7 separate regions of the Homo sapiens genome follow, and all the other regions are linked to region 5. The links come from fine-mapping of genetic effects on gene expression. A gene starts in region 5. Each other region holds a variant in brackets. All regions are shown on one strand. Distances are between the middles of the regions. Region 1 has its middle 190 kb from the start of SPDYE17. Region 2 has its middle 50 kb from the start of POMZP3. Region 3 has its middle 200 kb from the start of POMZP3. Region 4 overlaps LINC03009 (long intergenic non-protein coding RNA 3009). Region 5 holds the start of UPK3B (uroplakin 3B). Region 6 has its middle 53 kb from the start of SPDYE17. Region 7 has its middle 170 kb from the start of POMZP3.

Region 1 (4,069 bases), 330 kb before region 5:
AAATTTACAGTTGTTATTTTTTAAATCATAGGAAGTCTGGTAGTTCAGAAACATTAAAAGTGAACTTCGCAATTTCCTTAAAAAATAGTTGAGACTGTGGAGAAACAAAAATTAGTTGGAACTTAGTGAACTGAAGAACTGAACTTCAGTGAACTGAAGAAACAAATTCCACTCTGGGTAGATCGACTTCCTAATGTCACAAGTCAATTTAGAAATTATGTACAAGATAAATCTCTTTTCTCTCATTGCACCAATGTATTTATCTTAATCACAAGCATCAGTGGAGACAGAGACTGAAAAATAAATTGTTCACTGTCTCCAAGACAAACCCCAAATAGGAAACTTGATATTCTGCCGAAAGTCTATCTCTGGAATATGCTTTGGAAAAGCCATGGTATAATTATATGTAGTATTATAGAGATTCTTGTGTGTATAAATATTTTCAGGCCGGGCGCGGTGGCTCACGCCTGTAATCCCAGCACTTTGGGAGGCCGAGGCGGGCGGATCACGAGGTCAGGAGATCGAGACCATCCCGGCTAAAAAAACGGTGAAACCCCGTCTCTACTAAAAATACAAAAAATTAGCCAGGCGTAGTGGCGGGCGCCTGTAGTCCCAGCTACTTGGGAGGCTGAGGCAGGAGAATGGCGTGAACCCGGGAGGCGGAGCTTGCAGTGAGCCGAGATCCCACCACTGCACTCCAGCCTGGGCGACAGAGCGAGACTCCGTCTCAAAAAAAAAAAAAAAAAAAAAAAAAAAAAAAAAAAAATATTTTCAAAAGCCTTTGAAATTGTTTGTAAATCCAAAGTTTATAAATGACTTATGAAATCCACAAATTTGCTAAATATGTTTCTGCATTTTTGTATTATGCTCTCTGATTTTTCTTTCTATGTGGTGTAAGTCAAAGAAAATGATATACAATATGGCTAGATGGGACTAAAATCTCCAAACAAAAGAAGCATCTGTTTTTCTAATTTAGTTTTTGAATTTATGTTGGTTTCACAATTGGTTACACTGCAAACAATGTGGTTCAAATGACAATGACACTGATTACAATTCTACTTTGCACTAAGAGTGCTTTTTATTCAAGATTGTCAACTCCCATAACTAACAATAACTAAGCCTTTCAGCACCTCTGTACCTTGGGTATTGTTTTACCCAATGTGAAGCAGATTGAACTGTAACTTTGCAGGAGGCTAGCAAGTTTTTCATGAAGCCAGAGAAGGCTAGAATTTTAAAGTCAGCAAGTTGCAACAGTTTCTCTTGATGTACATTTGGAAATATTAGAGCAAGGTACTTATGAATATGATTTCTTCCCTATGCTCATTTTTTCTAGTACTTTGAAATGACTCCAACCTCAGAGACCATGGGCCCTTAATTCTTAATTAACTATTAATGGTTTTCTTTAAAAAACATTAATTATTGCTTTCTTCCTGTTTCTATGCAGTGTGTCCCTACTGTCTCCCTTAGCCAGTGGAAGAGGTTATAAGTGGATAGCAAGCCTTCGGAGTTACATCCTGCCCCACAGATCTCTGAGATAGTTTCTATCAATTGTTGTAGTCCTTAGAAAGTTCTTTAAATATTCATGTCTGCACCTTGTTTTCTTAAAAATCTATTTACATCTATGCTCTGTCCACATAGACTATCAATCCTTTCAAGACTGGAAGAAATTTGAATTCCCTATTTCCTCATTCATTCATTCATTCATTCTTCATTTGCTTATTCAGGAAACATTTATTGGATACCTATGATGTGGAAGACAGGTATGCTAGGTGCTGGTTCATGGGAACAAATGAACACATTTTTCTTCTTAAGATAGTGATTGTTTCAATACGGCGAGGGCCCCAAGGGAAATCCGTTGGAAACTGAGTTTACTAATGTG[C/T]TCTAGTGAAATGGTTTCATGATGTAATTTGTGCCTATAATATCAGAAGCTTTACATTGTGTAACTTCTACAGTTGTAATGTTTTAGTCCTGATGACTGCCATTTTGTACTTTCTCTGTTGAGTGGAAACCTTGCCTTCCATGAACTGAAAATGGAAAACTCTAAATCATCTCTTGAGGGTTTTATATTCCTATGATATCTTCAGTGATTTCATTAGTGTTTAGTTTTCTATTAAAATACACTCAGAAAAAATAACTAATGAATACAAGTCTTAATACCTGGGTGATGAAATAATCTGTACAACAAATACCCATGACACAAGTTTACCTATGTAACAAACCTGCACATCCTGCACATATACCCCTAAATTTAAAATAAAAGTTAAAAAATAAATAAAGTACACTTTGTATTATAAGTAAGATAAACCTAATGGCCATTTTTAAAATGAAAAGAATAATATGTTATAATAAGGTAGTAAATGTAGATAATTTCTCAACAGCAAAACCAGACTAGAATTAATGTATGCTTTATCAAGTGGTATGTTATAGTAAAGAGAAATTTCAGCTAAAATGTTTAATTACTATCTCACTAAGAGAGCCAAAAATGGCCTATTACCTAATTCCTGTTTATACCATTATTGACATTAACTAGACATGTAAACTTTGCCTGAGTGTTGTTATAATATGGTGGATAACTAACCTGACTCTGGAATCAGGCAAACTTGGGTATACAACTTGCTTTTGCTTCTCACAAACTGTATAAACACAGGAAAATAATTTTGTCTTACGTAAAATGCAGTTTTAGCAACTGCAAAATGTAATAATAAAAGTGTTTCCATGAATGAATGCATGGAATACTTAGAAAAGAACCTAGTACAAAGTAGCCATACTAGAAATGTTAGATAGTAGTAGTAGTAGTGGGTTTTGAACAAATTGAATTTATGCTAAATTTATTGGAACAGACGAAGCAAGTCACATGAGATCCCAGATAAATTAGTAAGCTATTATTGACTGGTCGGAAAGCAACCAATACTTTTGGGGATTCTCAGGCTATCATTACATAGAAACTTGGCACATAGTTTTATTGAAGTGATCATAGAGCCACTTAGTAACTGTAAGAAATGTTTAGTCATCACAACATCACAACAGCGTTATGAGGTAGGTAATGTGCTCGTTTTATAAGTGAGGAAACTGAGAGTCAGCAAGAGAAAGCTATTTATTAGGGTTGAATAACTGTGAGAAGGGCAGGCCTTGACTCTAGGTTTATTAACTTCCATATGTTTCTTCTGCATGCTTTCCAATAGCCTGTCATTCTAATTAGCATTATTTAAATGTAAGTAGCAATTAGTTCTGTCAAGAGTCAAATCATCAGCTATGATCTAATAATTATTAAATGTCTATTACCTGCCAAATATTATAGAACAGGCTTTAATAAATATTTTATAACATGCTCCTTCAGTCATTAGCTATACTTAAAAGCCATCAATTCTGCCACTGTACTAGCTACCGGGGACACAATGAAGAAGATACATTCCTCAACTTAAAGAGTTTTTTTTTAGAAAGAGGTTTTTTTTTGTATTTTTTAGAGTAGTTTAGGTTCACAGCAAAATTGAGAGGTAAGTACAGAGATTTCCTGTATTTCCCCTGCCCCTGTGTATGTATAGCCTCCCATATTATCAATAACCCTCACCAGAGTATCAAATTTGTGACAATTGATAAACGTACATTGACACATCATTATCACCCAAAGTCCATAGTTTAATTTAGGGTTCACTCCTTGTGTATAGGTTTGGACAAATGTATAATGACATGTATCCACCACTATAGAATTATAGGGAGTAGTTTAACTATCTTCTATGCTCCATTCCTGCCCCCCTCCCCAGGCAACCACTGATTTTATTTTTTATTGTCTCCATAGGTTTGCCTTTTTCAGAATGTCATATCATTGGATATGCAGCCTTTTCAGTTTGGCTTCTCTCATTTAGTAATATGCATTTAAGCTTTCTTCATGTCTTTCCATGATTTGGCAGCTCATTTCTTTTTAGCACTGAATATTCCATTGGCTGAATTATTAATCCATCCATCTACTGAAAAGCATCTTGGTTACTTCCAAGTTTTGGCAATTACAAGTAAAGCTGCTACAAACACTTGTGTGCAGGTTTTTGTGTGGACATAAGTTTTCAACTCCTTT
Region 2 (4,069 bases), 170 kb before region 5:
TCACAGTGGAAAAAAAAAAAGGTGGGGAAAGCTGAAACCAATTTTCTAACACCTTAGACTGTAGTCCATCAGAAATGCAAATGTGAAATTCCCTGAAGTTATGATAAGCTTCATAGACAAAACAATGACTTTCATAGAAGATAATTTGTAGCATTCAGGAACTGAAAAGTTGGCTTTGGATGATTAGAGACTCAAAGAAGAAAGGCAGAAGTATCAGTCTGAATGAAGATATGTTTATTCAGCTTACATAAAGTCATAGCCAGCCATCTTACAGGTTTTATTAAATTTGAGTTTCCTCAAGTCTAAAATATTCTCATTCTCATAGCATAAATCGCTAACTTTAAGAGTGTGTGTGTGTGTGTGTGTGTGTGTGTAAATCTGATCATATTGAAATGCAGGTGAATGTTTGGCTCCACTATGTCTATTTACTTAACCTTGGCACTCACCACACAAACCAGCTTGCCCCCTATTTCCATCCATAGCAGCATCAGGTTTCTTTGAAGTCTGTAAACCTAGCTGCCAAGGTAATTCTAGTTTTGGAAAGCATCACGTAGTTGAGACACAAAGTTAGAAATCAGTTAAATATTGAGTTAGGGGTAGGTTGACAGAAATAGGGAATTGTCTGAAGAGTAGTACAGATTGCAGTGATTATTTCAGGGGCAATTTAAGTTCTCTGATTTAAGCCTTCAGCTGGCTGTTAAGGATTGACAGAACAGATTTATTTGTTTGTCCTTTCATTCATTTATTCAACATTTGCTTGAAGGAGTACTTGTTGTAATAGAGAGATGGATAAGCTCCGGAGGCTGGAGCCACAGGTGAGTGGAGGTGGGTGGGTGGAATGGTGGGGAGGGTCAATACCCAAAAACTTTGTTGCACCTTTTTATTTACATGTGTATGACAAGGTAAGAGACAGACACTTTTTAAAAAGATATGATCTTGCAAGATTAACGTGTGCACTGGAAAATTATGTGGGATAGGGAAGGGAGTTTCTCAGTAGAAGGAAGAGTGCTGGTGAAGTTGTCAAAGTTTCCCACCACCTGGTGTATCTACGGGTAACTAGAACAGGTGACTAGGTTGAAGCAAGGGAGGTCACAGGAACAGGTCACATTGGAGAGCTAAGTGTATGCACATGTCACTGAAGTGCTTTAATCGCAGTGCCGTCCCTCCAAGTAGGAGTGCTGAGGATTTCCCTGATACACAAGGCTCTTTCAGGACTTAATTTCACTTCACTCTCTGTTTCTTAGTCTTCTAAATGTTTTGGACCATTAAAAGGGACTGGAGAATGGCCATGCCAAGTGGCCTGTATAAAAAGTAAGCAAAGTCATGGGGCCAGAATGCCATTTTTCTGAATGAACCACAAATGGCATGCTGTTGATGGAAAACCACTGAAGACAGGAAGAAGAGGAACAGGCAGTTTGAAGGTAAGCACAAAAATCAGGCATTGGCTTGGCTTCTGCCATTGGTGAGACTCCCATTCAATGATTTCACACAGCCCCTGAGCTGGCCACCAAAACTGTCTCCTTATTTCTCTCCATGCTGACCTCCTGCTCCCCTCAGCCACTGCTCATTCCCTCTTCTCCCAGACACGAAAATTTTAGGTCGCTTTTCCTCATTCCTCTACACTGTCCTAAGCCTCAGTAGTAGTCTTCTTCTTATCTCTCCCGGAGTGGGAGCTGGATTCTGGTATAAACTGTGCTGATTCCCTCAGGTTTCCTAGCTGAATGTTCAATGCCTGATTATTGACTATTTTATTTGTTTGTTTTGTTTTGTTTTGTTTGAGATGGAATCTCGTTCTGTTGCCAGGCTGGAGTGCAGTGGCGCCATCTTGGCTCACTGCAGTCTCTGCCTCCTGGATTCAAACTATTCTCCTGCCTCAGCTTCCCAAGTAGTGCCC[G/A]CACCACTTGCAGCTAATTTTTGTATTTTCAGTAGAGATGGGGTTTCACCATGTTGGCCAGGATGGTCTCGATCTCTTGACCTTGTGATCCACCTGCCTCAGCCTCCCAAAGTGCTGGGATTACAGGCATGAGCCACCAGGCTCGGCAGACTATTTTCTTTCACTCTGTTTCCTGTTACTACCTTAGCAATGCAAATGCTTTCACTTAACTAAGGGTTACTTAGCAGGATGAGTAATACGCAAGATATTATATAGTTGTCCAGGTAAATAGAATACTTTTTCTCCTTAAGTTAATAATGAGCCATTGAAGTATTTTGGAAGGGAGAAAAAGTCAACAACAATGATTTGCTTCTTAGAAAGTTCCCTTTGTCTAAAGTGGGAAGGATAGATGGTGGGAGTAGCTGACTATAGAGGAGGAAGTGTGGGGAAACTATTGCTCAGGCCTGGGAGAGGGAAAACGGGGCCCTAAACCAAGGCAGTAGCAGATAGGATGCAGAGGAGGTTCTGCACTAAGGAGATGTTAAGGAGACGTGGAGACTACACTCTTGGGGAAATAAAAAGGAACAAAAAACTAAGATAGTCTCTTTTAGGCATAACCAGCTGGGGGGATAGTAGTGCCATTGCCCATATAGAATGCAGAAGTAACCTACTTGAGCAAAATTATTTTGAGTTCAGTTTTGGACAAATTGAGCTTGTCTGAGTGAAGATATATTTATGCTATGGTTCATCAGAGGACCTGGACTAGAAATTTATATTTGGACAGCAGCTACATCATATGGTGGTTGGTGCTCAGGGTGAGAATGAGATGAGGAAGGGAAAGTATAGATGGAACAGTGAGCCTGTGACAGAGCTTTTAGTTCCTCCATTCTTACTTCCTCTACAGAACTGTCGGAATCTTTAAGTAAATCAGCTTCCCCACAGTCCTCAGTGTATTCCACTGGGATTTAGGAAGGAAGACATTTTATTGATCCAGTTTGAGAAATTCTTGCCATCAATAATTGTGAATACTTGCCAGATGGCTCAAAACAAGAAATGAGATCAAATAAAATCTGGAGTATTGCCTGAATGCAAACTTTTATAGGTCTAATGATGTGGTCAAATATATATGGACAGTGTTGAGATTAGAGCTTTCATCAAAGCCGTATGTTTCTGCTTGCTTTGCCTATAATTGCATTCCCATTTGTGGTAACAAAATACCTAAAAGTAACCTCAATGAAACACGTCTAGTGTATATTTAATGAAAACTACCAAATATAGAGAGAATTAAAGCAGACTTAAGAAGTTGGATAGATACACCATGCTTCAAGCAAGAGGGATGTATATTTAAATATATCTTCATGCTAAATTATTTTATTTATTTAATGTAATTTCATTATAAATAAAAGAAATAATTTTTGAAAAACTGGAAATTAAAATTTCAAATTCCATATGTTAAATCATATGAGGAGAGCTAGTTTTCAAAAAATTAAAATGAGGAGCAAGACATAATAGACATCAAATGTTATAAAACTATAATACTTAAGTGAACATGGTACTAACAAAATTAGATAGACCTCGATGAACACTACAAAACATATTTATAAGAATTAGACCTTATCTTCCATGAGAACTACTACAGTCATAGAGGTATCACAAACCAGTGAGAAGGAGACAGATTATTTAATAAAACTGTTTTGGTAATCAGTTTGCTATTTAGAAAATAATGAATTTATATACTCAACTCATATATTATTCCAAAATAAGATATGAGATGCAAACATTCAAACATGAATTCAGGGAGAAATAAAAATAATAATTCATTAAATCACAAGATAATGAGATGGTTATCATTTTAAGTATATTACAGTAAAAATGGATTTTTGGTACATCAAGTTAGAACCTTGTTCAAAAAGAATACAAAGTTAATACAATTAAGTAGGTCACATTAGATGAAATATCAATATTATTAATAGTAACAATATTAATAAATGAAGACTTCAGAAATCAATCAAAAAATCCTATAATTCCAATAGATAAGTGGCCAAGGAATATGATCTGATGTTTAAAGAAAGAGAACATATAAATCGTTAATAAGCACATGGGGAAAATGAAATATAAATTTTTATTCTATTAAAATTAAGCATATGAAATCGTACATAATAATAAATGTGTGGTCAAATATAGTATGATAAAATT
Region 3 (4,069 bases), 310 kb before region 5:
GACAGTCTTTTGTTGGGAAACATTTCAAGACACAAATTTGAATGCAAGCTACCTGAATATCTAACTCACTCCACTGATGTGCTTTCTAACATTATCCTCTAATGCATAGTTGGCCTGGGGAAAAACAACAAAAATAACAAAGACAAACAGAAAGAAAGCACATGAGAAATGCAGATACAATTCTGCAAAAGAACAAATAGAAAAAAGGTAAGAACGCATCAAAAATATTTAGTCATAAAAGACATGAAAATAAGAAAACCCTTCTCTGAGAATTCAAAGAAAATTTTTTAAAGTCTTCTGATACATATATATGTGTATATATATGTACATATATACATGCATATACATATACATATATACATAGATATGTGTATATATACACATACATATATATGCATGTATATATACTACATACATGTATATATACTCACACATGTATATACACATACATATATGCATGTATGTATACACATATATACACATATGTGTACATATATACACATACATATATACATATATATGTATCAGAAGACTTTTTAAAAAATTTCTTTGAATTCTCAGAGAAGGGTTTTCTTATAATTTTCATGTCTTTTACGACTAAATATTTTGATGTGTTCTTACCTTTTTTCTATTTGTTCTTTTGCAGAATTGTATGTGCATTTCTCATGTCCTTTCTTTAAATGTATACATATATATTTATATGTGTATATTATGTGTATATTATGTTACTACCAGAAAATCTGAAGAAGAGAATATGCTTTCCAAATTATAAAAGTAAAACATGCAAATACAAGAAATATAGACAATATAGCAAAAATAAATGGCATTAAATACAGAAAGTAGAACTTGAAATAAAATGCCACAGCTAATTGCCATATCAGTAAATATCAATGAGATAAAATTGCTCATTAAAAGACCACCAATTTGGACCACAAAATGACACAGGTGCTATTATGATATTCATCTAAAATCAATAAAGGCAGGAAGCAAAATATAGGTAAACAAATTAAAACTAAAAGCAAGCAAGAGTAATTTTATTAAAATTATACAAGGTCCACTTTAGGGAAAACTGCATGAAACTACCAAACGAAAGACAATGAAAAAGTTTAAATCTACAATTAAAGTTTGGTATGAACCTTAAGCTAAATAGCATAGTACCAAAATTCGAAATGCCAATTTTTTTACAAATGCAGGACAATTACACTGAGTGGAAAAAGCCAATCTCAGAATATTGCATACTCCATGATTCCATTCAGACTCCATGATTCCATTCATTTTTGAAGTGACCAAGTTATAGAGATGGAGAACAGATGTGTGCTTGTCAGGGCTTAAGGAGGGACTGTGAATAGAAAAGGGTAGCAAGGGAATCCTTGCGATGAAACACAAGTCTGTATCTCGACCACAGTAGTGCACACAGGAAATTGCACTGTGACAACATTGTGTAGAACTAACACACACACACAAGTGAATGTAAATCTGACATCTGAATAAGGTAGATGCATTGTGTCAGTGTCAACTTCCTACTTGTGACATTGTCCTGTAGTTATGCAAAACGTTACCAGTGAGGGAAAATGGTGAAAGGTATATGGAATTCTCTCTGTATTATTTCTTAAAACTGCAAATAAATCTACAATAATCTCAAAATTAAAAAAAGATCAAAATGTCAAAATGGTTTAAAACAACCATAAATAAATTTGAATGGAAAATAAGAAACTGGAAAAACCTGCCAAGATATATGAAAATTGGCTCATTTCTTCTAACTTATTAATTTTTAAAAATAGGCCAAGATTATAGACAGATAATTCACAGTAAGAGAAACTCAAAAGAGTTTTAAATATGTAAAAACCTACTCATATTTGCTCATAATAAGACCATTATGGTTTGTATTTTAAACTACAATGAGATTTGTAGTTTGTAATTCAAACAGCAATGAGATAGCTTCTTAGTTACTGTACTTGCAAGGATCAAATGGTTTGATAATAAATGGCATTGGCAGGAAGTTTGAGGACAAAAGCAATTTTGTGCACTGTTGGTGGGAATATAAGTGAATGTTTCACTTTGAAGGCTATTTGGCACTATGTATCAAAATTAAAAATTCACTTGCCGGGTGACAGAAATTTCACTTCTCAAGATTTGTGTTAACAGGTATATTAGCCCATATGTAAAGCACAGTATGAATAAGCATTACATGAATAAGAAAGGACTGGAAATGGCATAATTGTTCATTAAAGGCCAGTAATTCAATAAATTATGGCACAACCATGCAATAAAATATGCTATTGGGAGAAATGAAGTAGCTCTCTCTATGTTCTGAAAGGGGGTAATCTCCAAATTGCTGTGTTAAGAGAAAATCACAAAGTCATGAATAGTGTAATAAGGTATCTTCAAATGTGTAGCATTAAAATATACACATATATATAT[ATG/G]CACAAACAGACACATGCTTGCACATACACGTTTCTGGAGAGTTTACAAGATATTCAATAGTGACAGCAGAGATCTCTGTTTGGAGAACTGCATTCATTCTCTTTAGAGCCCTTTGTCCTGCTTGATATAGTTAATGCATATGTTTGTCTTCATTACTGATGTGTCTTACCAGAGCCTAAAATTTGCTCAGTACATTGCAGTCGTTAAATAAACATTTGTTGAGTTGCACTGAACAATATTTCTATGTTGTTCACCTTCAAGGAGTAGCGCTCAGTATTGCACCCACTAATTTGTCTGTAGAAAACTTCATGCTTTTTATAAATATTTTCGAATACATTATTTTATTTGATCCTCAAATGTTTTTCAAGTTATACAAAGTATGTGTACTTTTTATATATGTGCATATTTCAATTATTCCTTGCAACTGAGTTATTGGTACCTGTATGATTGCATTCCTCGTATAAACTGTATGTTCACATTTTGTTGATTGTCCCCCTTTGCTTTTCAGTTCTCTTCTTTTACTCTTCTGATGAGTTCTTCCCTTGACTCTTAACACGTTAATCACCTACCACACTTTTTTATTACTATATGCATGATTCATTATTTTTCTTCCTGCTTTCTGTTTTATCAACAAAATGCTAATATTAAAAAAAACAATGCAAGCTAGTTCTCTTTGTGTTCTCCCGCATTCCTTTGAAATCTATTTAGAAAGTAAGCATTACAATTTTCCCTCCCCACCCTCACCCCCACCCACCTATCTATAGAGAAACAGTTTTTTTCCCCAGCCCAAGAATTATTGGCTCAGGTCAGCAGTTTATCATAAAATATTCTACATGACATCCATGCTTTGTCCTAGCTCTTCTATTTCCTGTAGACTCTTAAAGATCTTTTTTAATACCCTTATTCTCAAATACATCAATTTCCGTGTTATAAGGAGAGAAGGCCTTTGCAGTTACTCTATGTAATACTTTCCTGACTTCTTTTTTTAAGGATCTCATTCTGTATTCTTCATTTAATGTATTCTTTTGAAAAGTGAGCTGTTTCAGCTAGGCCCATTTCATAGTATTATTTACACTTCTGTTTCTATTTTCTGAACCTTTTACCTTCCTCCTAATTTTTTAAAAAACTCAAGTAGTCCACTAAAAATAGGATCACACTGTGTCCATTTCCACAGCAGTTCATTTTTTTTTCTGCTTTTGATCACTTGTTTATGGTGCATTAACAACTTTGTCCCTTTACTAATTTCTTACTTTTGAAATAGTTCCACTTTAAAAAAAACTTCTCAATCATTTGCAGTTTCTTTTTAAGCATGATATGAATCTGCCTGTCCATTTTTATCTCCTAGGCTTAATATCTCAGTCTTCCCGACCACTGTAGGATGTTTCTAGAAATTTCTTAATCTTTCTTCTTTCTTCTATTTTGTTCGTTGGATTTCCAAGAGTTTGCTTATAGTTTTCTCATTGTATCTTTTCTCTGTCTTTTTAGTGATCATGTCTGCTGATGAGATGCCCACATTCTTTACTCTGAGCTACAATTGTTAGAATAGACCTGGCTGGTTTATTAGCCAGGATGCTGCATCACAAACAGCCTTGAAATGCAATGGTTTACAACAACATGCATTGATTTTTCTTGGCCATGTGTCTGC
Region 4 (4,069 bases), 46 kb before region 5:
TAAAAGCAATAAGAGGGAGGCAGGCAGTTAAGGATGTATATGTGGAAGTGATTGTTAAGGATTTCCCATGGAATTTATCTTGAGTTATGAGAAGTTAGATTAGAAGATCAAAGGGTTGAGGCATAATGAAAAGTTGATTGAATCAATTGATTGGAGATCCCAGTGGGATTAAAGAATTTTTGTTGTCTGGAACTAGAGAAAGTAAACTGGAAAGACAGATGGTGGAAATCAGAGAGAGGGACAAATGTACAAAAAGGGAGAGAGAGGAGGTGTAATAGGAAATTAGATGAGGTTGAAGCAGCAGCCAGGATCCCAATCCAAATGTCTGAAATGTGTTTGCCTAAGTGTATATTATGTATATGTGTGTATAAGACACACAAAAGACGAACTGCTGTATCAATCAAATCAATCAAAAGATATATCCACTTCCAAAAATTTTAATAGATTCCATGTATCCTTTTAATAATATTGCAATTTATACCATCATAAACAATGTGTAATATTTATCATTTCTTCAAATACATGCCAAAATTAAATTAGTGCTGATCTATATAAATTTACCCTATTTAAGGGGCAAAGTTATTGCAGGTTATTTAAATAAGTATTTTTAAAGGTTTATAGGACATTTTTATATCATTTATGTTGAATATTTAGAGTTTTGCTTATTATTTTATGTGTTTGCATTTTAAATTATATTGACTTCTAGAGGTTCTGTATTTGATGTGTGTATTAAACATTTATTTAACACATATGTTAAAAGTATACTCTTTTGCTCTGTGCTCTGTCGCTTCTATTGTAGTTTAGTTTGTGCTGCCTTTCCCTACACAGGCATACCTTGCAGAAGCTGCAAATTTGGATCCAGATCACTGCAATAGAGCAAATATCACAATAAAGCAGGTCACATGATTCTTTTGGTTTTCCAGTGCATATAAAAGTTATGTTTATGCTATACTATAGTCTATTAATTATGTAATAGTATTATTTCTAAAAAATAAAATGCATACCTTAATGAAAATGTTTTATTAAGAAATGTTAATGATCACTTTCGCTTTCAAGCCAGTCTTAATCTGTTTGCTGATGGAGGACCTTGCCTTGACAATGATAGCTACTGACTGATCAAGGTGGTGGTTGCTGAAGGATGGGGTGGCTGTGGCAATTTCTAAAATAAGACAACAATGAAGTCTGCCACATCTACTGACTCTTCCTTTCATGAAAGATTTCTCCATAGCATGTGATGCTGTTTGATAGCATTTTACCTACAGTAGAACCTCTTTCAAAATTCAAGTCAAATTTTTCAAATTCTGATGCTGCTGATAAAGTTTATCAAATATTCTAGAATTTTGTTATCATTTCAATAATGTTCACAGCATCTTCACCAGGAATAGATTCCATTTCAATAAACTTATTTCTTTGCTCATCCATAAGAAGCAACTCCTTATTTGCTAAAGTTTTATCATGAGACTGTAGTGATTCAGTCACATCTTCAGGCTTTACTTCTTTTTTTGTTTGTTTTAATTTTACTTTAAGTTCCTGGATACATGCGCAGAAAGTG[T/C]GGGATTGTTTACATAAGTATACATGTGCCATGATGGTTTCCTGCACCTATTAACCTGTCATCTAGGTTTTAAGCCCCGCATGCATTAGGTATTGGTCCTAATACTCTCCCTCCTATTACTTCCCATCCCCTAACAGGCTCCGGTGCGTGTCCTTCCCCTCCCAGGCAGGCTTTACTTCTAATTCTAGTTCTCCTGCTATTTCCACAACATCTGCAGGGACTTTCTCCACTGAAATCTAAAACCCCTCAAAGTAATCTATGAGGGTTGGAATTAACTTCTTCCAGATTTCTGTTAATGTTGATTTTTGACCTGTTCTCATGAATCACAAATGTTCTTAATGACTTCTAGAATGGTAAACCCTTTCCAGAAGGCTTTCAATGTACCTTGCCCAGATCCATTGGGGAAATCACTATCTATGGCAAATATAGCATTATGAAATATATTTCTTAAATAATAAGACTTGAAAGTAAAAATTACTCTTTGATCCATGGGCTGCACAATTGATGTTTTATTAGCAGGCATGAAAACATTAATCTCCCTGTACCTCTCCGTCAGAGCTCTTGGGTGATTAAGTTATTGTCAATGTGCAATAATATTTTGAAAGAAATCTTTTTTCTGAGCAGTAGGTCTTAACACTGGGCCTAAAATATTTGTATACCGTGCTATCATCTAGGCTTTGTCATTCCATTTATAAAGCATAGGCAGAGTAGATTTTGCACAATTCTTAAGGGTCATAGGGATTTTGGAATGGCAAATAAGTATTGGCTTCAATTAGAAGTTACTAGCTGCATTAGCCCCTAAGAATCACATCAGCCTGTCCTCTGAAGCTTTGAAACCAGACATTGACTTCTCTCTTACTATGAAAGTCCTAGATGATATCTTCTTTCAATATAGGTTGTTTTGTCTACATTGAAAATCTGTTGCTTAATGTAGCCATCTTCATCAGTTATCTTAGCTAGATCTTCTGGATAACTCACTCCTGCTTCTACACTAGCACTTGCTGTTTCACCTTGCACTTTTATATTACAGATACAGCTTCTTTTCTTAAACCTTATGAGCCAACCACTGCTAGCTTCAAACTTTTCTTCCGAAGCTTCCTCACCTCTCTCAACCTTCACAGAATTGAAGACAGTTAGGGCTTTGCTCTGGATTAGGCTTTGGCTTAGGAGAATGTTGTGGCTGGCTTGGTATTCTATCCGGATCACTAAAACTTTCTCCATATCATGAATAAGCCTGTTTTGCTTCCTTATCATTGATGTGTTCATTGGAGTAGCACTTTTAATTTCCTTCAAGAATTTTTTCTCTGCATTCATATCTTTGCTAAATGTTTGGCACAAGAGGCCTAGCTTTTAGCCTATCTCAACTTTCAACATGCCTTCTTCATTAGTCTTTTCACTTGAACATTTAGAGGGCCATGGAGGATTATTAATTGACCTAGTTTCCATATTGTTGTGTCTTAGGCAGTAGGGTGGCCTGAGGAGGGGAAGGAAGATGGGGAATGGCCAGTCTTTGGAGTAGTCAGAACATACACATTTATCAATTAAGTTTGCCATCTTATATGGGCATGAGTTGTGATGCCTCAAAGCAATTACCATAGTAACATGGAAAATCACTGACCACAGAACACCATAACAGATATAATAATAATTTAAAAGTTTGAAATACTGTGAGAATTACCAAATATGACACAGAGACAGAAAGTGAGCACAGGCTTTTGGGAAAATGGTGCTGATGGACTTGCTTGATGCAAGCTTGCCACAAAACTTCAATTTCTAAAAAAATTCTGTGAAGTGCAATAAAGCAAAGCATAAAACAAAGTATGCCTGTATTAGCAATTAAAGTTTGTGTATAGTCAACTATGTTAATCTTGTTTCATAGTTTCTTAATTTTCTATATGCTTAAGAGCTTTCCTCCTAAGATATATATGTATTATTCTACATTTTCTTCAATTTTGTTTATAATTTTTCTTTAACACATTTTCCCATTTTTTTTCTAATTATACTGGCAATTTTATAACACCTTTTATTTTAGGAATGAGATGTGGAAATGAATAAATGATAGCAATGAACCTTTAGACATTTCTTACAATGTGCCAGGTGCTGTTCTAAGGCCTTTACTTGTACTAACTGATTTAAGGTTTATAACAACCCTAAGAGGTAGGTGCTATAATTTGCCTCATTTCACGGATGAGGAAACTGGTGTATAGGAAGGTTTAGTAACTTTCCCAAGGTCAAAAGACTGGTGAATTTTCATCCCGTATTCAAACCCAGGAAGTCTGGCTCCCAAGTCACTACATTATATGCTACTGTCTGGTAAGCTATTAAATTATGCCCAAGTATGGGAAGTTATGCTGAAATTGATATTTCAACTGATCTTCAACTGTGTATTGAGAAATAAATAGAACTGTGATGAAAGGAAGTGGAAATAAGAGCCTATACCATAACACGGCACTGTAAGTTGGTGATATTTTCTAGATATGGAGAAAAGATCATTGTCACAGGTGTATCAGATACATG
Region 5 (4,069 bases):
CTTCAGAGGCTGGGACCACCCTGGGCAGGGCCAAGCCCCAGGCAGCTCCTCTGGGGCCCTCCCATGGATGTGGAGTGGGGGTGCCCGTCAAGAGCAGCAGCCCATGGCCTGGCCCTGCTCTGAGAATCCCCTGAGATGTCTCCAGCCACTTGGCCTGTGCCACCACCCCTCATCCCCCCGAGCAATTGCTCTCCAGACACCAGACCTGGGCCGGGGATGCTGGTTTAGGGGCCCTGGTTCCTAAATGTCACAAGCCAAAAGAGCAGGTGAAGGTGGCTTAGCAGGGCACATGGGGCAGGGGTCACAGGCCTCCCAGAGGGGCAGCAGTAGCCGGGGGCAGGGGGCTCAATCACCAGCAGCCTGAGGACCCAGGGCACCAGGAGCCCCGCAGAGGGCCTCGGTTTGTCTCTTTGCAGGGCTGGGAGCTCTGCAAGGCCTGGGAAGCGGGGAAGGACCTGGCAGGTTGGCATTGAAAAGAGTGGCTGCGGGGGATGGGGCGGGGCATGGAGCTGGAAGGCTGAGCCAGGGTGAGGCAGCGGGGAGGGCAGAGGGTGGACCTGGAGAGTGGGTGAGAGGGCAGAAGGGGGCTGGGCGGAGCGGGGTGCTGTTCCAGCCTCACCACGCCCTGCCTTCCCGGCTTCCCCTGGGCCTGGTCTTCCTGAGGTCACCCCGCCTCCTCCTGTGTCCGGACAGTCCTGACCTGGACACACTGCCTGCTTCCCCATCCCGGCTCCACCCCGATGTTGGCAGGCCACTTGACCTCCTGTGCCTCAGTTTCCTCATCTGTAAGAGCGGGTAGGAGCCACCTCTCCTGCTCCCTGCCTAATACCGACGAGACTGGGTCTGAACTCGGCCCCCGAGTTTCCTGCCAGATCTGCCCGTGGTGGGGGACAGGGGCCTAGACTTTGGGGAAGCTGCCCCCTCCCACCTTGACTAAGATCCCGCCTCCCCAAGGTGCCCACCTGCTCCTCCTGGGCCTTGCCCGGCCCCAGCGGGGGTGAGCACTGTTGCTGACTCTACAGTGGAAGGAGCCCGGGCTTGCAAAGGGGAGGACCGGGGCCGGGGACCCCTCCCTGGAAAGATGCTAGAGAGAGCATCCCTGGTCCCAGCAATGCGTCCGCCCCAAGCACAGCCCCAGTCCCAGGGCTCCGGTGGGGACCACCCACCGATAGGGTCCAGGGCCAGGGAGGGGCGCGTTGCAGAAGGGCTGCTGGTGGCAGCCGTGGTCATGGCCCACCCGCAGCACGGGGGCGCCTCCGCTGCCCGCCATGGGGTCGCCACAGGGCAGCTGGTCCGGAGACAGGGGCAGCGTCATGTAGTGGCCATCGGTCAGCAGCTGTGGGGAGGCCGGAATGTCAGCCAGTGTCTCCGGGTTCTGGAAGCCCCTGGAGGCTGCAGGAGGAGAGAACAGATGGAGGTGGGAGGGGAGAAAGCAGCTTTGTCCTTATGAGTGGGGGTTCTGTGTTCGCCCAGTCTCCAGCCCTGACCCCCCATGCCACCTCCTCCCTCAGGGCCCCCAGAGATAGTCCAGACCCAGTCGACTTTGTTACCCCTGAAGGGGAGCTTCCCTCTGGCCTTTTGTCCCCACCCAGAGCCAGGAGTGGGGAGCAGCGGGCAGTCCCAACCTGCCCAGCCCCAGCCCCAGCCCCATTGCAGTGCACCGGCCCTGCCCCACAGGAGGCCACATCCTCCCAGGTCGCAGCCTCGGTTCCCTGTCCAAAGGAAGAACTACTTGGATTCAGAGAAAGGGTTGCAGAGCCCTTGACAGCTGACAAACCCACCACTAGCACTACTCCCGGGATTTGGTGTTCACTACGTGTGTATTTTTCAATACACATATTACCCCTTTAGATAAAGCCCAATTCATCCACACCTACTCTCCCAAAGGCCCCCACAGGGGCTCAATCATTGAAGGCGCTTGCTGGTGAGGGGCTCCTAGGGCCCACCACTCTCCTCAGCCGTCACCCTCACCCAGGCCCCACAGCAGTCCCCGTACCATTGCTGAAGGCCACCACGAGCCAGACGGTATCGCTGGCGCTGGCAAGCCCATCGAAGACACAGCGCGGCTGCTCCAGGGAGAAGGTGGTGGCTGTGACCTTCCCTTCCAGGTCCCAAGCTGTTATCTGTGGTGTGTAGGGCACCAGCTCTGTGGCCACGGGGGACAAAAGGTGAGCCACGGAGACGGGCGTGGGGGTCCCTGGGGCTGCCTCTCCCAATCGGAGGGGGGCGGGCGCCCAGGGTCCAATCACTCCAGCAGGGCCCCCAGCCCCTTGGGTCTGGCTGGACGCGTCCATCCAGGACCCCCACTCACCCAGGCTCAGGCTGGGCCGGAGACAGTTCAACGCCAGGAGGAGCATCTGCAGCCCTAGGTGAGGCTGCCCCCAGGGTAGCCCCATGACAGCTGCCAGCACCCGGGAGGCTCAGGGGCTGGTCTGGCTGCTTCGGGCTGCACCTCACCCCCAACAGCTTGGCCCTGGAGAAGCTGGTTAATCAGGCTGCCCCAGGGGCTGGAAAGACCTGCAAATGTAAGTGCACCCCACCCCCTTCCTCCCAGGCCAGCCCACAGCAGGGAGGAGCTGGGGGGACTCTGGTGGGAGGCAGGCCAGTATCCAGCCCCACTGCCAGGGCCAAGGGAGAGGGGCCACTGGAACCCCAGATGCCAGCCAGGCCATCCCGGAGCCTGGATTGGGGCCCCTCCCAGTCTCTCCGCCCTGGGGAGGAGGGTCTGGCTTTTGGAAACAGGCTCAGGACCACATGCCTGAGATTCCTGTGCCCCAGGTGCCAGGAGCCTCCCTCTGCCTTCTGTCCCCACCCAGAGTCAGGAGTGGGGAGTAGCAGGCAGCCCCAACCTGCCCAGCCCCATCCCCATCACAGCACGCTGGCCCTGCCCCCCACGAGGCCACATCCTCCCAGTTCGCAGCCTGGGTTCCCTGTCCACAGGAAGAAGAACTTGGATTCAGAGAAAGGGCTGCAGAGCCCTTGACAGCTGACAAGCCCGCCACTTAAACACTACTCCCGGGATTTGGCGCTCACTATGTGTGTATTTTTCAAGACATAACTCACATACCTTCACAACCTTCACAGCTCAGTGGCTTAAATATATATATGTCACCCAGGGAGGTCAGTTCACAGCTAACTGGAGCCTCAAACTCCCAGGTTCAGTTAATCCTCCCACCTCAGCCTTCCCAGTAGCTGGAACCACAGGCACACAACACCATGCTCCGGCTAATTTTTAAAATTTATTTAATTAATTTTTTTTTAAGATGGAGTCTCCTTTGTTGTCCAGGCTGGAGTGCAGTGGCGTGATCTGGGCTCACTGCAACCTCCGCCTCCTGGGTTCAAGCGATTCTCCTGCCTCAGCCTCCCAAGTAGCTGGGATTACAGGCATGTGCCCCACGGCCAGCTAATTTTTGTATTTTTAGTAGGGACGGGGTTTCACCATGTTGGCTTGGCTGGTCTCAAATTCCTGATCTCAAGTGATCCACCCGCCTTGGCCTCCCAAAGTGCTGGGATTACAGGCATGTGCCACCGTGCCTGGCACCCCCGCCAATTTTTTTTTTGTTTTTTTTGAAACGGAGTTTTCACTCTTGTTGCCCAGGCTGGAGTACAATGGCTCGATCTTGGCTCACCGCAACCTCCACCTCCTGGGTTCAAGTGATTCTCCTGCCTCAGCCTCCTGAGTAGCTGGGATTACAGGCATGTGCCACCACACCTGTCTAATTTTGTATTTTTAGTAGAGATAGGGTTTCTCCACGTTGGTGAGGCTGGTCTCGAACTCCTGACCTCAGGTGATCCACCCACCTCAGCCTCCCAAAGCGCTGGGATTGCAGGTGTGAGCCACTGCGCCCGGCTGGCCAATTTTTAAAAATGTATTTTTTATAGAAACAGGATCTTGCTATGTTGCCCAGGCTGATCTCTAACTCCTGGGAGGATCAAGCAAATCTCCTGCCTTGGCCTCCTAAAGTATTGGGATTACAGGCGTGAGCCACCGTGCCTGGCTATTTTTTTTTTTTTTTGAGACATGGAGTCTCACCCTGTCGCCCAGGCTGGAGTGCAATGGCGTGATCTC
Region 6 (4,069 bases), 470 kb before region 5:
CTGGTCTCTGGGTCCTTAGGGCCTGGCACAAGGCGGGAGTCAGTGTACAGGCAGTGACCCAGTGTTCTCGGGCACAATGCTCGCCATGCAGCCCGCAAGCAGAGGCCACAGGCCTTTAACTGCTCCATGTGGAGGCCCTTAATCATCGTGAGTGAAAGGACTGTAGATTCTAACCCGTGTGGTGACTGCCAGGACTCAGGTACAAGGGGTCAGGTAGGCTCTGGACGGCCACGGCACCTCGGCACCCACATGCCACATGCAAATGAGATGCCACGGCAGGACCACCTAGGGGGCAGGAGCCGCATCTGCAGGAATTGGGGTGAGTCTTCCCAGCTAAGAGCAGAAACACAGGGCAGACAAAACGAGCGGCCGTTGCCCACGATACCTGACTGCACCGGAGGTGGAGGATCCTGGGGGCAGGTGCTGCGGTCCCAGGTGGGAGAGGCTGGAGCGGTAGAGGGGCTGGCTCCCCAGGGAAGGAGGAGCTGCGTCCCAGGCGTTCGTGGTGTTCAGCCTGGGCGCAGACCGGGCCCCGGAGAGTGAGGGTTTGTTGTATGGTGCAAAGGCCTGGTGGGTCCCAAACACAGAAGCGGTCCTGTGGGGGGGGTGCTGGGGGGCGGGGTATGCAGGGAGGTTGGTCATGGAGTGGCGGTAGCGGCCTGATACAGGGCCAGTTCTGCTGCCACTGAGGCACTGGTGGCAAGAGCAGGCGACGCCTGTGTGGCCCGGCGGAGCGATGATGGTGGTCACTGGGTAAGGCGGCCCTGCTTGGCGCCGCACGCTGCAGCAGAAGCTGGAAGTCTTGTTGGTCTGCGTGTGGGTGGTGTAGTTGACAGTGTAGTTGTACCCCAGGGGGGCCAAGTCCACGAGCTGGTTGCCCCTGGCCACCTGCTGCTCCAGATCGTCACAGACGCCGGCTTCATAGGCGGTCCAGGAGCCATCGTCGCTCAGCCACTCCCAGACGACACCTCGGCCAGGGGCTGAGTGCTGGGGGAACAGGTGTCTCCGCACAGTCCGCATGGTGCCTGTTTTCAAAGGAAAACCAAAGGTTAGTCTGCTAGCATCCCCAAGATACAGGGAACGTTCAAATTCTTTTTTCAACCGCCAAAATAAACAAATAGGAACACAGTAGGTACACAGTCATGCTGCTATTTGTTTATTTATTTATTGTTAGAGGCAGGGTACCCCTTTGTCACCCAGGCTGCAGTGCAGTGATGTGATCATAGTTCACTGCCACCCTGACCTCCTGGGCTCAAGCGATCCTCCTGCCTTAGCCTCCTAAATAACTGGGACTACAGGCACATGACACCACACCCACCTAACTTCAAATCGACCTCTACAACACCTGCCACTTTCATTCCCCGATTAACACTTCCTGCTCTCTGCCACGATATGCAATTTCCATGTTATTATTTATCCTGTCTGCTATCTTTGTCAGTTGACTTCACACACTGTGAAGGCAATGACTTGGGAGCTGACTGACAGCCACAGTTTTCACAGACTCTACGACACTCCTGGAAACACAGTTTCCAGGGCTGGGCATGACGGCTCAAGCCTGTAATCCCAACACTTTCGGAGGCCAAGGCAGGAGGATCACTTGAGCTCAGGAGTTGAAGACCAGCCTGGGCAACACAGGGCGATGGAGACCCAGTCTTTACAAAAAACAAACAAACAAACAAACAAACACGATAAAAAAAACCCATACTTTTTAAAATAAAACTAAAATTAAAATTGAAAAAAAAAAGGAAAAACCAGTTTCTCAAGTTTCCTCACTGGTGACACTGTGGGCCAATAATTCCTTACTGCAGGGCCAGCCCAGTGCACTGCCGGATGGCGAGCAGCATCCCTGGCCTCCACCCACCAGATGCCAGGAGCACCCCCACCTCCCACCCACTCAGCTGTAA[C/A]AACCAACAGTGTCTCCAAACATTGTCAGATGGCCCCGGGGACAAAATCACCCCCAGTGACAACCACCAGATTAGAGTAAGGGATGGCTCCGAGAGGAAACTGGTGCCTCATTCTCAATAATACTGATCAAAACACACTGCAGGTCCAGGTGCGGTGGCTCATGCTTGTAATCCCAGCACTTTGGGAGGCCGAGGCAGGCAGATCACCTGAGGTCAGGAGCTCGACACCAGCCTGGCCAACGTGGCAAAACCCCGTCTCTACTAAAAATACAAAAATTAGCCAGGTGTGGTGGCGGATGTCTATAATCCCAGCTACTCGGGAGGCTGAGGCAGGAGAATCACTTGAACCCAGGAGGCAGGGGTTGCAGTGAGCCGAGATTGCACCACTGCACTCCAGCCTGGGCAACAGAGCCAGACTCCGTCTCAAAAAAAAAAAAAAAAAAAAAAAAAAAAGATCAAAACACATCGCAGACCAAAAAGCAGAAACGCACACACGCAGAGGGGCGCAGTTGCCTGCCCAGGGCACACAGCCACTGAGTGGTGGGACAGGGCCCTCTGAACTCCTATGACGCACCACCTCCATGCTGGCCTGCCGGCCAAAGGAACCCTTCAACCTCTGTGGTCGGAACAGGCATTTCTGCTTTGCAAGACAAGGGGAAGGGCCTCCCACAGTGCCTCTCCCACTGTGAGCTGCACTCAACCTATGTGGATGTTCCCACTCACTGCACCCACCCACCACCACGTGTGCTGCAGGGAGAGAGCAGAAGCTCTGTAAGTCACGTCCATCACCCCAACACCTGGCGCAGAGCCTGTGGGAAAGCAGGTGCGGCGCCCAGATATGTGCGAGAGGCAGACAGCGTCTTACCGGTGTCCTGGCGGAACTGGGTCCAGCTGGGGAGGTCAATAATGTAACGGGCCAGCGAGGGGTCTGCCTGGCCCAAGGGGATGCTGTGGGCCAGGCTCCCAAGCCCAAAACGTTGGCCCTTCTGCTGGACAAACTGCTGCTCGATGAAGCTGCAGATGGTGGCACTGTAGGGGTGCCAGGTGCCCAGCCCATCCTGCCATAGCCACAGCTGCGGGGCTGGTGTACACCTGCACCAGGGAAGGGCTTGGGGCCATGGCCATCTTCCCAAGGAGTCCCGCTGCTTTCCCAAACAGCTTCAGACCCCTCTGGCCTGGAGTCCCGGGGTCATTGCCCAGCGCCTCCGGCAGATCTGTGAACAGGACAGACATGAGCAGTTACCAATGCACATCAGTAGCCCTGCAGAGTCAGCCTCAGCGCAGGGGAAACACGTGATGCTTTTCCACAGCTGATTTTTTTTTTTTTTTTTGGTTACAGGGTCTCACTCTCTCACCCAGGCTAGAGTGCAGCAGTGTGATCTTGGCTCACAGCAGCCTCAAACTCCTGGTCTCAAGCAATCCTCACAACTCAGCCTCCAGAGCAGCTGGAACAATAGGCATTCACCACCACACCCAGCTCATTTTTTTACTTTTTGTAGAGATGATGTCTGTGTTGCCCAGGCTGGTCTCAAACTCCTAGCCTCAAGGGATAGACTCGCCTCAGCCTTCCCAAGTGCTGGGATCACAGGTGTGAGCCACCGCGCCTGGTCTCACGCTTGCTTTTCTTCCCCTAACACCTTAAGGGCATCATGAATCAAGAACCTGATCCTGTCTCTTTGCTGTGGCAGCCAGGAAGAATTCAAAGTCAATCCCGCAGCCTACGTACCACCGCACAGGCCCATGAAGAAAGAGAGCATAAATTCCGGGTGCTAGTCACCAGCCCAGCTTCTTTCTTGCTACTGATAATTCCCCTCTGACCCAACTGCTTAGTGTGTTTCATCATGCATGTATTTTTTTTTCTTTGAGATGGAGTTTCACTCTTGTCACCCAGGCGTGTGATCTCGGCTCACTGCAACCTCCACCTCCCGCGTAGGTTCAAGTGATTCTCCTGCCTCAGCCTCCCGAGTAGCTAGGACTACAGGCATGCACCACTGCGCCCAGCTAATTTTTTGTATTTTTAGTAGAGTCGGGGTTTCACCATGTTGGCCAGGCTGGTCTCAAACTCCTGACCTCAGGTGATCCACCCACCTCAGCCTCCCTATTAGCACCCACCATCCTGAAGATGAGAACCCAACATTTCTTGGAAAGGAGCAGGGTTTGGGACA
Region 7 (4,069 bases), 290 kb before region 5:
TTTAAGGAGGATTTTGTTTCTAAGTCCTTGTATGTGAACAATTCCATTTCTATGTATGACGATCAATTGATCTTTAATCATTTTCATTCTTACTCCTGTCTTCTCTGCTTCATTTTTGATTTGCACTCAGTTCCTTGCAGTCTTTCTTCTTGGCTTGATTATTCTACATTAACAGATTTGACAGAGCAGCTTGGGAAGCCTCTGGGAGCAGAAGACCAACATATATAAATGTTTACTGCAGCTGGGGAAGTTACCTAGTTACATCTACTCTCCAAGATGATAGGGATGGTATGCTCAAAGTGTCTGCAGGGAAGCTTGAGGGGAGTTTTAATGCAATACCCTTCTTCACTTAGGCTTAAAAGACTTAAAGCTATCTAATGTCCCAGGTTAAACTGCATGATGGACTATTCCTGTTAGCATATGAAATAGAGTCATTTTTGATATTTTACAGTCTACATGCTCATACTGCCACACATGAAGTTTTCTCGAATGATTTTATGGATAATAATGTAGCCATCGGTTATGTAGACCTAGGAAACAATCTCTTTTTTGCTGATTCTTAGAGGATACTTAAGGCTCATGTGATAAAACTGCTTCATATGTCTCTGGAATAATAAAACATAAAATTTTGTTGGTAATTAAAACTTTAAATGAAGCATGTATCATGCTCTTATAGGGTAAAATTAGTGATGAAAATATTTAATCCCCTAGAAATGCTTATTGCAGTTTATGTCCTTTATTATTTTAATGTAGCTTGAAAATGAGAAGTGGTTTTGGGTGGCATAAATATAAAATTATATTGACAAAGCAATCAATAAGAAATCGCCAACAGTCACAAAAATATTGTGGAATGTATGACATAACATAATATAGACATTGTCTCTACTGTATTTAAAACTGGAAGCAAGTATTCTTATTACTGGCTGAGCTTACAGAGAGCACAACAAACTGTGAGCTCCCTGAACACAAAAGCAATTTTTCATCATCTCTTTCAATTTATATACCCACAATAACTGACAATCTTGGTTAGTGCTTAAAAGCCCTAGCTTCTAGAATACAATGGTCATTTTGAAAACAGGGTCTTCCATTTAATGGAGGTATGACCGTGGACAAGTCATTTAACTTCCTCTGTCTTGGTTTCCTTATCAGTAATTTTAACAAACTGGTAATACCTACTTCATATGCAGACTGAAGGAGTTAATTACATTGAGAGTGTTTAGAATGGTGTCCAGCACATAGTAAGGCCTATCTAAATGTTTGCTATTATTGTTGATATTTCTATTGTTGTTGTTATTATAAGTGCCATTAGAATTATTTTTACAATGTCTTACAATTATCTGATGACAAGTGCTATGCTTATTGAATGTGGTTAAACTTACATGTGTGTTTTCTTTTTTTGCATTTTTTTCTTCATTTAGGAAAATTAAAAATGTCCACTGAAAGTTAGGGTAATAAAGTGTCCTTGTTCAGCAAACATGAGAGAAATATAGTCACTACCTGGCCCATTCTAGTTCTGCTACAGCTTGAACCATTGAGGTCAGGAAACTATCAGCAGCTTTCTCCCCACTGTAACCCAAAGGCTGGAGTGTGGGGAGATAACAGATCATCCTGCCACCTTCCAAAATTTGCCTTTATAAACAGCCTACCTGGTGTTTTTTTTTCCCTCCTCATACATGTATTTCTTGGACATTTTATTAGTTAAGATGCTTTCTATAGCAAATAAGAGAATGTCAAATTTAAATTGGCTAAACCTACAAAAATATTCATTGCCCTCCTAACTGGGAGTCTAAAGAAGGCCTGATTTAGGGTTGCTCTTTCTGGTGATGAGTCTCTTTCCCCTGAAATTCCCTTGGCTCTCCCTTCCTCTG[G/A]GCACTGGTTTTATCCTAAAGTGGTAACCAGTCTCTGACCTCACATCTGCATGCAACAAAGTCTGAGGGAAGAATATTATACCTTCCTGTGTTTCTCAACTACTAATAAGGAAACATTTCCCAGAATCCCTCCAAATTTTTTACTTTCATTTGATTGGCCCAAATAAGGTCACATGCTTACTCCTTTAGCCAATTTCCATGGCTTAAATGTGAAATCTTGAGGGATGACCATTACAGGTTTAGGCTAAGTAGGGTCCACCACCTGAGCTGGGCTCAATCTTCAAACTGCTTGGCTATATGAACTGGGTATTACCTAGCCCACCAAAACATTTACCACAGACATTGAGGATTCCTCCAGGGCCCTGGCACCTTCAGTAGCTTAAGGCAGATCCCTATCAGGAGAGAGGAGATTTTTTTCAACTCATGGTATTTCCTCCAGAGCATTCCCTAATTTAGATCTACCATGATCTAAACTGAATATCGTGAATTTAACAAGCTAATTAAACAGACTGAACAGAATTGTCGGCATTATTTCAGAAGTGATGTTTTACATCCATCCTGAAACACTGGGCTAGATGTTCCAGTATATTAAAACATGCCTGAATCTAGTTTTTTATTCCTTGGGTTTGATTTTCTGTGAATTACTGCATCTTCTTTATTTTCACTTTGATCCCCAGGGTTGCCCACATACCATAGTCCTCCCTTTTCTTCTATACTTTCCCTCTCTGCTTTGCTTTCACTATATTCTCAAATTACCCTATGATTGATACCAGTTATCCAAACTTCTACTGTGACCTTATGCATGCTTATTGTCCATACTGTATACAGATCATCCGTGTTAATACAACACTAGTCTATCTTTAATGATTATGATGGTGGGGACTGCAGCATTTTCACTGCCAGGTAAATTGTTAGGCACTAGTTGTATGATTGTTTAAACTAGACATGTGTGGTTGTTAAAACACACACACACACAACACAAGCTGTGATAGGCTCTATGAAGAAAAATAGTATGATAGAGACTACAAAAAGGTGAGTGACAAACTAATTTAGATTGGATTGTCAGGAAGGTTCTTCTGGGAAACTGACATGTAAGATGACACTTGGAGGATGAGAAGAAGCCTGGATATGAAGAGTAGAGGGCACAGCTTTCTAGATGGAGGAAACAGCATATGGGGAGAATAGCCAGGGGAGTCTGCTGGGGCTGAGTGAGTGTGGGCCACAAGATAAAAACAAAGAAATCAGCAGGTCTGGATCACTGAGGAACATGGAGGCAAGTTTAGGAGAGTGAAGTTTATTACAAGTTCAGTAGGAAGGCTCTGAAGAATTATAAGCCAGACAGTGACATCCTCAGGGTTTAACATTTTACTGCTCATTATAGATGCTTTCTAGATTAAAAAAAAAATAATTGGGAGGGCATGAATGGAAAAGACGACTTAGGAAACTGCTGAAATATTCCATGCTGGAGAAGACAGTATTTAGACTATAGCGGTGACAGGGAAAAATGTTAAAAAACAAAAAAAGTGAATTAGTGATGTAGTTGGAAGGTAAAAGCAATTTTCTACAGAAGCATTTCATTTAGAAATTGATGGAAGGAAAATAAATCAAGAGTGACTCCTATATTTCCGATGTGAACAACTGTGAGGAGATGGGTTCCCAAGATGAGCAGGGTGAGTGAGGAAAAGGTTGTTGGGGTTCTTTGAGAGTTTAGTTTCATTCAGATTAAATCCAAGTAGAGCAGTCAAGAAGGCAGTCAGATATAAAGTCTGGTGCTCAAAAAGAGAAATCTTAGTTAGAGATAGAACTTTGGGAACTGTAAGCAAATAGATTGTATTTAATGCCACAAAGTTGGATGAGGTCAATTACAGATAGTAGTAAGTAGAGAAGAGATGATAAGATGAGTGAGGGAAAAGTTCTGGACAATCCCAATGTTTACAGCTTAAATGAAACAATGGAGCTGTTGAAAGAGCTTGAGATGTGGTTGCAGAGAGAGGGGGAAATCTAGGAGAGTATGAAGTCATAAGAGCCACGTGATATTTCAAGAAAGAGGCATGATTAAGAGTCTGGAATGCTGCTGAGGAGTGTAGTAAGATGAGAATTGAAAAATGCTCTTTAGATTTATGTGGAAGTCATTTGTGACTTGGAAAAAATGGTTTTATTGGAGTAGGAAGGCAAGAAGTCAGATTGAATTGTCTAATGTT

The links. PIP is the estimated chance that this variant, and not a neighbour inherited with it, causes the effect.
Region 1: its variant is the best candidate, but not a certain one, in a credible set for the expression of UPK3B in monocytes after Pam3CSK4 (Quach 2016, PIP 0.89).
Region 2: its variant is the best candidate, but not a certain one, in a credible set for the expression of UPK3B in whole blood (INTERVAL, PIP 0.73).
Region 3: its variant is the best candidate, but not a certain one, in a credible set for the expression of UPK3B in tibial nerve (GTEx, PIP 0.88).
Region 4: its variant is the best candidate, but not a certain one, in a credible set for the expression of UPK3B in transverse colon (GTEx, PIP 0.80).
Region 6: its variant is the best candidate, but not a certain one, in a credible set for the expression of UPK3B in monocytes after R848 (Quach 2016, PIP 0.70).
Region 7: its variant is the best candidate, but not a certain one, in a credible set for the expression of UPK3B in whole blood (TOPMed, PIP 0.79).

The regions. Positions count from the first base shown.
Region 1 is chr7:76,843,593-76,847,661 of GRCh38, reverse strand. No RefSeq gene overlaps it. Among named protein-coding and RNA genes, the nearest start is that of SPDYE17, 190 kb to the left of the region's middle. The variant C/T (reference allele first, on the strand shown) is at 1,880.
Region 2 is chr7:76,675,743-76,679,811 of GRCh38, reverse strand. No RefSeq gene overlaps it. Among named protein-coding and RNA genes, the nearest start is that of POMZP3, 50 kb to the right of the region's middle. The variant G/A (reference allele first, on the strand shown) is at 1,895.
Region 3 is chr7:76,820,943-76,825,011 of GRCh38, reverse strand. No RefSeq gene overlaps it. Among named protein-coding and RNA genes, the nearest start is that of POMZP3, 200 kb to the right of the region's middle. The variant ATG/G (reference allele first, on the strand shown) is at 2,422.
Region 4 is chr7:76,555,387-76,559,455 of GRCh38, reverse strand. All of the region lies in intron 2 of LINC03009 (long intergenic non-protein coding RNA 3009), which reads right to left. Among named protein-coding and RNA genes, the nearest start is that of LINC03009, 8.1 kb to the right of the region's middle. The variant T/C (reference allele first, on the strand shown) is at 1,553.
Region 5 is chr7:76,508,980-76,513,048 of GRCh38, reverse strand. UPK3B (uroplakin 3B) reads right to left here and starts at 2,497. Exons shown (of 6, transcript NM_001347684.2): 1 at 2,312-2,497; 2 at 1,997-2,146; 3 at 1,167-1,392. The coding sequence starts at 2,396. LOC124901675 (a long non-coding RNA gene) reads left to right here and starts at 2,316. Exons shown (of 2, transcript XR_007060388.1): 1 at 2,316-2,525; 2 at 2,941-4,069. RefSeq lists enhancers at 1-481, 482-1,133, 1,887-2,459, 2,460-3,032 and a silencer at 3,910-4,069.
Region 6 is chr7:76,977,577-76,981,645 of GRCh38, reverse strand. It overlaps the pseudogene DTX2P1 and the pseudogene DTX2P1-UPK3BP1-PMS2P11. Among named protein-coding and RNA genes, the nearest start is that of SPDYE17, 53 kb to the left of the region's middle. The variant C/A (reference allele first, on the strand shown) is at 1,905.
Region 7 is chr7:76,797,625-76,801,693 of GRCh38, reverse strand. No RefSeq gene overlaps it. Among named protein-coding and RNA genes, the nearest start is that of POMZP3, 170 kb to the right of the region's middle. The variant G/A (reference allele first, on the strand shown) is at 1,869.